Regions from separate parts of the Homo sapiens genome. Here region 2 is linked to region 1. Evidence: fine-mapped expression QTL. A gene starts in region 1. The other region holds a variant in brackets. All regions are shown on one strand. Distances are between the middles of the regions. Region 1 holds the start of FOXI2 (forkhead box I2). Region 2 has its middle 65 kb from the start of CLRN3.

Region 1 (4,377 bases):
TGGGTCAAGGCAGAGCTGTGCAGCCTCTGTACATCCTCATCAAGCACGGACTCAAAAACTGAGTCCTAATCAGCAGCCGTTTCAAAATTCCTGAAGGTGTGGAGTCATCCCAGACCCTCTGGCAAGCTCCGGAAGGGTGTTATGGGAGGAAAGTGGGTGTCTATAGGCGGTGATATGGGTTTGCACCATAAGGAGAGGATCCAAGTCCTGTTTGCTACACATGTGCTGAGGGAAAGACACTTTCTTCAAGAGGTAGTCACCAAAAAGCTGGTCACACCTACGGACAGCAGCATGGTTTCCCCTGAGGGGGGCACTGGAAATCGCTAAGCTGAGTGGCAGGTGGCACTGGCTGCTCTTTTGGGTGGAAGCAATAGACTGTGTTCACCTGAGACTCAGCAAGAAGAGGCGTGTCCCACCCCGAGTACTTCCCGTTGACCCCGCAACCGCCCCTGCAACGACGGGGATGGAAGGGGAGGGCGGCTTCGTAAAAGGCACCTGGGACCCCCACAACTAGCATTCCTTTGACAAAAATCAGAAATCTTTGGGAAAGGGGGAAGGAAAAGGGGGCAGAGTCCAGCCGAAAAGCCGACCTCAAAGAACCATTTTGGGGTATTTCTTTTCTCTTGACTGCTTGGGAAATGCCTTCGGTTCACCCACCACTTCTGAAGGGGCTTCACTTCTAAGGCGAGAGGCCAACGTCCCAACAGAGGGACTCTCACTTCTTTCTGCCATTTGTTAAATTGTTCCATAAATTAGTTGTTTTACATAAAATTTGGAACTACGATCTGGGAGGCCGAGGGGCTGCACCACCAGTAAGTCGCTGACTCAAATGGGCCCTTTAATCCCCAAACCCAAACTCTTTCCTCGATCGAACCGCTGGCCTCAACCTACAAGCCTCCTCCACCGCCAAAAGTCGGGAAGGGTTGGTCCTTTTGTTTTACAAATGAATTAAAATTAGATCCACAGGCCCGCGTAACGCTGGGGAATACCCAGGGCGAGGCCAGCTTCCAGGAGGTCAGCGCCAACACCGCCGGCAGGAATCTGGGGGGATGGGGAGGTCTCCTCATCTCTGAGCCTTGAGCACCAGGCCTGAATTTTCGCCTCTTTCGCACAGGTGCCCGACTCGGAGTCCGGGAGGCGGGCCCTCTTTCCAGGTACCCAGCCCAGCGTCAGCCTGGGTCCATCCTCCGCCACCCCACAGCGCGGGGAGCAGGGGAGGCCGAAAGCCGGGCAGCTTGGGGGGCCGGGATAACCCGGGCTGCAGCAACCCCGGGCGGCAGCAGGACTGGAGAGCTGGTGTCGGACGCACTGCAGAGACGTCCCTGTTTTCGGCGCGTCCTCCGACACCCAGCAGAGAGCTTGGCGCTCTCCGCTCTGCGCGCCCGAGGTCACAGCGCGGAGAAACCTGGCGGGGCCCCGGACTCCCCGGCTTGGGAAAAGCGATGACTGCCCTGAACTGCTGGGGCGTTCGAAATTTCCAGGGTCCCGACCCTCCGTGGGGTACGCGCGACTTCGGCGCAGATGTCAGTCCGCTGCCTTCCGGGTTGAGGGAGCGAGGACTCCAGACGACCCCAGGGCCGCTGTCCAGGCCCAGCCCCGCGTTCTCCACCTCGCCACCTCGCTCTGCGGCTCCAGCCTGGAGATCTACGGACTTCATTGCGATCTCTTGCGCAGTGTAGTCGCCCTCTATCCCTAGCCCCGAGTCCCGGGTAACCCAGGGGCCCCGGCGAGGCGAGTTTCTTTGGGGCGAGATGTCCCGAGCCGAGCAAAGGGGCCGCGCATTGGACGGGGCTCCCAAGCCACAGCCCTGGGGGCCTTGAGGAGTCGTGGTACGGTCCAGGGCAGTCGGGGCTGCGGGGCCCGTGAAGCCAGACGAGGCTACGGACTTAGGGTCCCTGCAACCAAGACCGCGAGCGACTGTGGACTCGGGACGGATCGCACAAAGGAGGAAGGGGGAATCAGAGGGGCGTCCGGTCCAGGACGTGTCAGGCCTGGGCGGGGCGGAAAACTGACACCAGGGCGAGGACAAGGATTTCGCTCCTCCAGGGCTGCCAGGGGAGGGGCTCGCCACCGTCACTCTCCATGGGCTCTGGCCCCGACGGTGTTTAAAGGGCGGAGGGCTGGGCCGGGCTGGTCGCACCCGGGCGCTGCTGGCGGCCAAGCTGGATGGGTCGCCAGTGAGTTTCGGTGCGGCACCGCTGGCCCAGGCCCGGGCGCGGCTGGACATGGCCACCTACTGCGACGACCTGGGCCCCTCCTCGGCCCCGCCCGGCCAGGCCCAGGCCACCGCGCACCCCCCGGGCTATGAGCCAGGGGATCTGGGCGCGGTGGGCGGGGGCCCCCTCCTGTGGGTGAACGCGCCAGCGCTCAGCCCCAAGTCCTACGCTTCGGGTCCCGGGCCTGCGCCGCCCTACGCGGCCCCGAGCTACGGGGCTCCCGGCCCGCTCCTCGGCGCCCCGGGCGGCCTGGCGGGCGCCGACCTCGCCTGGCTGAGCCTCTCCGGCCAGCAGGAGCTGCTGAGGCTGGTGCGGCCGCCCTACTCCTACTCGGCGCTCATCGCCATGGCCATCCAGAGCGCGCCGCTGCGGAAGCTGACGCTCAGCCAGATCTACCAGTACGTGGCTGGTAACTTCCCTTTCTACAAGCGCAGCAAGGCGGGCTGGCAGAACTCCATCCGCCACAACCTGTCGCTCAACGACTGCTTCAAGAAGGTGCCCCGCGACGAGGACGACCCAGGTAACAGCGGCGCGCCGGCTCGCTCCGTCCAGGACTCCCCATCTTCCCGCCGGGCCGCGGGCACTCCGGGGGTGGGAGCACCTTAGACAACCTAATTTCTCCCTGCGCGGTTGGGGATACCCGGGGAGGAGGGAGAAGGGGAAGAAGTGCTTGGGCATGGACAGGTTCTCAGACAGCGGCTGAGCCCACCACAGGCCCGCGTTTACAGTGCGGCGGTCCCGGGGCTCTCAATCTCTGTGCGCTCCTTCGGAGGAAGAAGCGGGAGAGCCAGCAAGCTGGGTGACCTTGGGAGTGACTCAACTTCCCTGGGCCTCAGTGCCCTACCTGGTAAAATGGGGAAGACAGCGCCTACCCCAAGGATGGGCAAAACAAATAGGATGCCCGTTTGGAAAGCTCTGGAGCCTACCTGGGGGCCTGGCGTGGTCTGCGCTGTCCTTGGCAGAGCGGCTGGCGGAGTCCCACCATTAGCATCTCGCAGGCCTTCCTTCACCTTAACGGGGCTCGGCCTTTCCCAGGGCTCCCTTCCTCCTCCTTTCTGGATTGTCACTTTCTTCCCAGTCCTGCTGTGGAGGCCCATCGGGTACAGAGTGCCCGTCAAGGGTGGAATGGGGGCGAGGACTCAGACCCTCTGTAAGGGCCAGCAGGGGATCTTTCTGAAGCTGACCTCCTCGCTGGCTCACACCACGGCCCGTCAAAGCTCGAACCTTCTGAACTGGGCTGTTTCTTCTTCTGCAGGTAAAGGCAATTACTGGACCCTGGACCCCAACTGCGAGAAGATGTTTGACAACGGGAACTTCCGAAGGAAGAGGAAGAGGAGAGCTGAAGCCAGCGCGGCCGTGCGCTCGGGAGCCAGGAGCGTGGGAGGGGCCGAGGCGCCAGCGCTGGAGCCCCCGAGCGCGGCTTGCCTGGACCTGCAGGCCTCGCCCTCTCCATCCGCACCCGAGGCCGCCACCTGCTTCTCCGGTTTCGCTTCTGCTATGAGCGCTCTGGCTGGCGGCCTTGGCACCTTCCCCGGGGGCCTGGCGGGCGACTTTTCTTTCGGGAGGCGGCCACCGACAGTCGCCACCCACGCTCCCCAGACCCTTAACCCCTCCCCTGGCTTCGCCCCTGGCCACCAGACCGCGGCCGCCGGCTTCCGCCTCAGTCACCTCCTCTACAGCCGGGAAGGGACCGAAGTTTGAAGGGAGGCTGGAGGCTAGCCGGGTGCGGGTCCAGAGGTGCTGAGCTCAGGCCTCCGGTTTCCCCTGGTGACAGCCCCACGTGTTGGCGTTGAAGGCCTTGGTGCCCTGGGAGGAAGCGCAGAGCCGGGGGCGGCTCGGCCAGCAGGGAGCTGGGCTGAGCGGCTCTTGGGCTTTGGGGTGGGTGGCCCTTCTGCTGTGCACCCCTCACCCAGGCGACCTTCGGAACCTCCCTGCTCTGCCTCTAAGTCCAGCCGCCCTGGGCGTCTAGAACCTGTGCTCTCGAGGGATTTGCCTTGAAGGGGCGGCGGGTCGGCCCTCAGCTCCAGCGTTTTCCAAGGAGGCTGGCTGACTCCAAAGAGCCTTAGAGCAGATGGGAAGAAGGTGGGCTGCCAGAGCGGCCCAGGTGGTGGGGGCCCTTTCCACCTCCACCCAGCTTGGCCCACCTGGCTCAGGGCCTTCC
Region 2 (4,377 bases), 90 kb after region 1:
TTTAAAATAAAATAAAGAATCCCTAAACCCACCTATGACCTTTAAGTCCCCATTTTGAGATGTCCCATCTTTTCTGGGCAAACCAATGTATACCTTCCATGTATTGATTTTACCCACAATTGCTGTCTCCCTGAAATGTATAAAACCAAAGTAGAACCTGACGGCTTCGGGAGCACCTTCTCAGGGCCTCTTGAGACTCTGTTTTCCTGGGCCATGGTCATTCACATGGCTCAGAATAAACCTCTTTAGCTATTTTGGCAGAGTTTGGTGTTTGTGCCATCACGACAAACGAAGCAGTGATCACACGGTGCTCATTGTTGGCCTTAGGGAGGCCTCTGGCTTTCACAAGTTTGTATTTTCTCCATTTTGGAGAGTGTGAGCAGGAGTTTTGATTCAAAGCTAGGTAAAACAAATCTTCCTCCATCCTGATCTAGCACCTTAGCGGGAGCCAGCCCAGAAGAGAGTGCTTTACTGTTAGGCCTTCTGGGAGGGAGCAGGCTGAGAGGGCTGCCAGCCGGGCGAGCCCCCGAGAAGAGCCAGGGAGGAAGGCGACTTCCTGGCAATAGAGGCTCATTACTTCTGTGGCACTCAGGTTGGCCCTTAGAGGGTTCACGGACTTCCTTGGAAAAACTGCTCAGAGCTCTGCGGAAAAACCCACACAGTTTCCCCAGCACATAACACCACACATGCAGAGCAGGGTGAAGGGATTTGATTTTTCTCACAGGAAGTGCCTTGATGGAAGGGAAATGGAAGCCTTTCATTTTTGCATAATTCTGTAAATTATATACATTTTGCCAATTCAGCCCAAATTGGTATTTTCCTCTCCCTGATTCCTATTTCATTTACACATAATACTTAACATGCAACTCTGGTTTCCAGACTGCCTGGAGAAAATAGGTTTGCCTCTGCTGTCCTAGCCTCCTGCTGGCTGCGTGCTCCGCGAAGCACCGTGCCGTCTCGAAGCATTGCTTGTGTGCATATGTGAAGGAACAAGAGCCTGCAGCCATGTTGCTTACAGGGCTTTCCAAGGCTCTCACTTCATGTTAGAGAGGGCGATTCCCATGCTGAGTATTCATTCGTGTGTCTGAGCAAAGTCAGCCGGAAAGAAGTATTTGTCACAGTGCTGCAGGTCCCAGAGGGAGGCCTGGCCCTCATGAGCAGGCTGCAGTGGGGGCTCCACACTACCAGACCTCAGCCTTCCACTGGCCTCTGCTTCTCAAAAAGTCCAGAGGCCTTGAGTCTGTGTTCTCCAGCCACAGCTAAAAGCCCCCCCCGAAACAACCAAGACATTCCCTTATTTGGAACCTGTCTTTGTGGCTCAGCAAGGCAGATATCTGCCTTTTGTCAGCCATTTGCTATGTCATGAGAAGAACACAGCTGCCAGACAGAGGAAACCCAATTCTTATTGACTCCTGGGAGGTCTTAAGGAATTTATTTCCCCCACCGTGTCTCAGTTTCTGCAGGTGTACAACCAAAAGCTAGGATCCCCAAGGCCTACAGAGTCCAATATGATAGTCACTAGCCACAGGTAGCTATTTAAATTGTGTTTGAATTAATTAAAATTAAGTAAAAGTGAAAATTCCATTCTTTGGTCAACTAGCCACTTTTCAAGGGCTCAATAGCCACGAGTCACCAGCAACTCCCATACTGGCTGGTTCAGGTAACAGAACATTTCCATCAAGGCTGGAAGTCCCGTGGGACAGTGCTGATCCCAAGATTCCTAAGGCCCTTCCAGGGCTGGCAATCCAAGCAGAGGTGGGTGAGCCCTGGTCTGCCTCCCCTCTGGTTGCTGTGGGTGTCCAGGCATGGGTGTGTCCTTTAGTGCTCATGGTTCAGAGTAAGTGTCAGGAAACCTTGGCCTTGTTACTATTTTGAGTGTTCTCAGGGACCCTTTAAGGCACAGTCCAGGAAC[A/G]AAAGTCCTCAAGTGACCTGGAAGAGGATGTTTCATTGGCCCAGAGAGTACTAGCCTGAGATGAGGAAACTGAGACCCAGAGAGGCTGAGGGTAGAGGGAACCAGGGGAGACTGTTGCTTGCTGGCCCCATGGAGGAAGGAGGGAGTTTTCTGCAGATTCAGGAGGGATGGAAGGAGTGGTGCTCCCAGACCCGAGGCCCTATCCTGAGAGACGGGTGTCTGCATGTGGCAGGCCTTTATCACAATTGTTGCCGGCCACTGAAAACTCTGCCCAGAGTTTGTCAGTACAACAGACTGACATCCTAGGTGCCAGTCAGAGAGGTCCAAGGCTCTGTGGGTCTAGAGGAAGTGCTTGAGCCCCCCACTGGTGGCCACCTTTCTTGAAGAGCTTGGCCAGGTTCAGCCGTGGAGCCTGTCCAAAGTGAGGATGTATGCATAGGCTCTGGGATGCAGGGGCCAGACAGGGCTGGCTACAGTCCCTCCTTGGCTTGTCATGCCTGGGTGGCAGCTGAAAAAATCCTCACACCTGCTGGACAGACCCAAGGCCTGCTTTACTCACCCACACATACCTTGACTTGATTTGTGTGCCCAGGTGTTTGAGAGAAAAGTCCTGAAAGAACAGCACCCAGGAATCCAGAGGGAGTAGGGCCCAGTGTGGGGGCTCCCCTGCTGGAGTGTGGGAAGCAGCCCGGTCACTGCGTCCTTGCTCTCTCTTATTCATCCTCAAAATGTCCCAGAGGTTGCTGTTGGAACCCTCACCTTACAGAGGTGGATACCAAAGCTCAGAGAAGTAACATAGTCCAAGCCACAGCGCTTAAAAAGTAGTAGAGCCAGGACTCAAAGCAAGCTAGGCCAGCCTCCCAGCTGCTTTGTTTCCACTCTTCCACACAGAAGTCTGATGTCTGACCCTATCTGGGATGGATCATTCATTCATTCACTTAATTTCTTTTCTTTTCTCTTCTTTTCTCTTCTCTTCTCTTGTCTTCTCTTCTTTCTTTCTGTCTGCCTTTCTTTCTTTCTCTTTCTTTCATTTGTCTTTCTTTTGTTCTTTATTTTTTTGAGACGGAGTTTCGCTCTTGTTACCCACGCTGGAGTGCAATGGTTCAGTCTCGGCTCACTGCAATCTCCGTCTCCTGGGTTCCTGCCTCAGCCTCCCGAGTAGCTGGGATTACGGGCGCCGGCCACCATACCTGGTTAATTTTCATATTTTTAGTAGAGATGGGTTTCACCATGTTGGCTAGGCTGCTCTCGAACTCCTGACCTCAGGTGATCTGCCTGCCTCGGCCTCTCAAAACACTGGGATTACAGGTGTGAACTACTGCGCCCTGCCACACTTAATTCTATCAGCCCACCTGAGCTAGGTGCGGGGGCACAGCCGTGCACAGCAACATGAGGGCTCATCTCACAGCACTGACAGAAAGCAGCCTCATCCAGTGAACTGCCTCTGCCGTGAATTCTACAGTGACCCAGCTTTCGAAACCGCTTGCAATGAGGACACCTATTCTAATTAAGAATGGTCAAGCTGGACTTCCTTGAGGAGGTCAACTTTGAGCTGAGTTAGGTGGCCTCCTAATGCCTCTGTTTTCTTGTCTGTAAAATGGGAATAATGGAAATCCCCATTGTGTCTCCTCCAAGGGCTGCTCTCAGGAGCCTCTCATGGGAGGTGATGGTAAGGGTCTTTGCAGACATCCTCTGAAAGTAGAATTACAAAGGCCCAGGAAAGAATGCTGGGCCAGGACCTCACATCACTCTTGGTCAAGGCCTTTTAAAATGCATTTACCCACCATCCCCCTTCAGCGAGACCAGAACACACCGGCTTCAGGGACTGGGCTCTCCCTATATTCCTCAGTGTTGAATAAAAGATAGAGACAGAATCTCTAAATTTAAAAACTTTTCTTCAGGAGGCAAGAATTGCAATTCAGGGCATACAGACCAGGTGGTCTTTGTTATGTCCAAAGAACAAAAAGAAGGTTAAAGAATTTAGAGAAATTTTATATATTGTTCTGCAAGAAAGTTCATTAGATTAGCACTAGTAAAGTTTTGGGGAGCTGGCAAGCTCCGATTGGTGAGTGATGGTGGTGGATACAACTAGTCTTAAAGTTGCAGTAGGTTGTTTCAGTAGCTGTTAGATAAAACTGGTTTCAGGTGGCAGCAAGCAGTTTCAGCAGCCAGGCTGGCAGAGAATTCAATCCTCGGAGCAATGTCATGTGCCCTGAGGGCTTTATCCTCCTGGCCTCTGGACTCTGTTTTAGTTGGGTATGGCAAGAATGACCCAATTTGTGTGATCAACTTTTACATTAGTAAGAGCTTGAACCACAGGCCTGGGAGAGCCAAGCCTGGCTCTGACTCCAGCTTCTTCCACTGATGTCTTTTCAGTGACTTTCAATGAGCTCAGGATGCCAGGAGCCCAGATGGCCGGCTCTTCCCCATCAGTATCTTTGTCTTCACTATTTGGTCACCCAGTG

What was found. PIP is the estimated chance that this variant, and not a neighbour inherited with it, causes the effect. A credible set is the group of variants that fine-mapping cannot tell apart.
Region 2: its variant is the best candidate, but not a certain one, in a credible set for the expression of FOXI2 in subcutaneous fat (GTEx, PIP 0.60).

The regions. Positions count from the first base shown.
Region 1 is chr10:127,735,049-127,739,425 of GRCh38, forward strand. FOXI2 (forkhead box I2) reads left to right here and starts at 2,137. Exons shown (of 2, transcript NM_207426.3): 1 at 2,137-2,736; 2 at 3,472-4,377. The coding sequence starts at 2,226. The coding sequence ends at 3,917.
Region 2 is chr10:127,825,419-127,829,795 of GRCh38, forward strand. No RefSeq gene overlaps it. Among named protein-coding and RNA genes, the nearest start is that of CLRN3, 65 kb to the right of the region's middle. The variant A/G (reference allele first, on the strand shown) is at 1,913.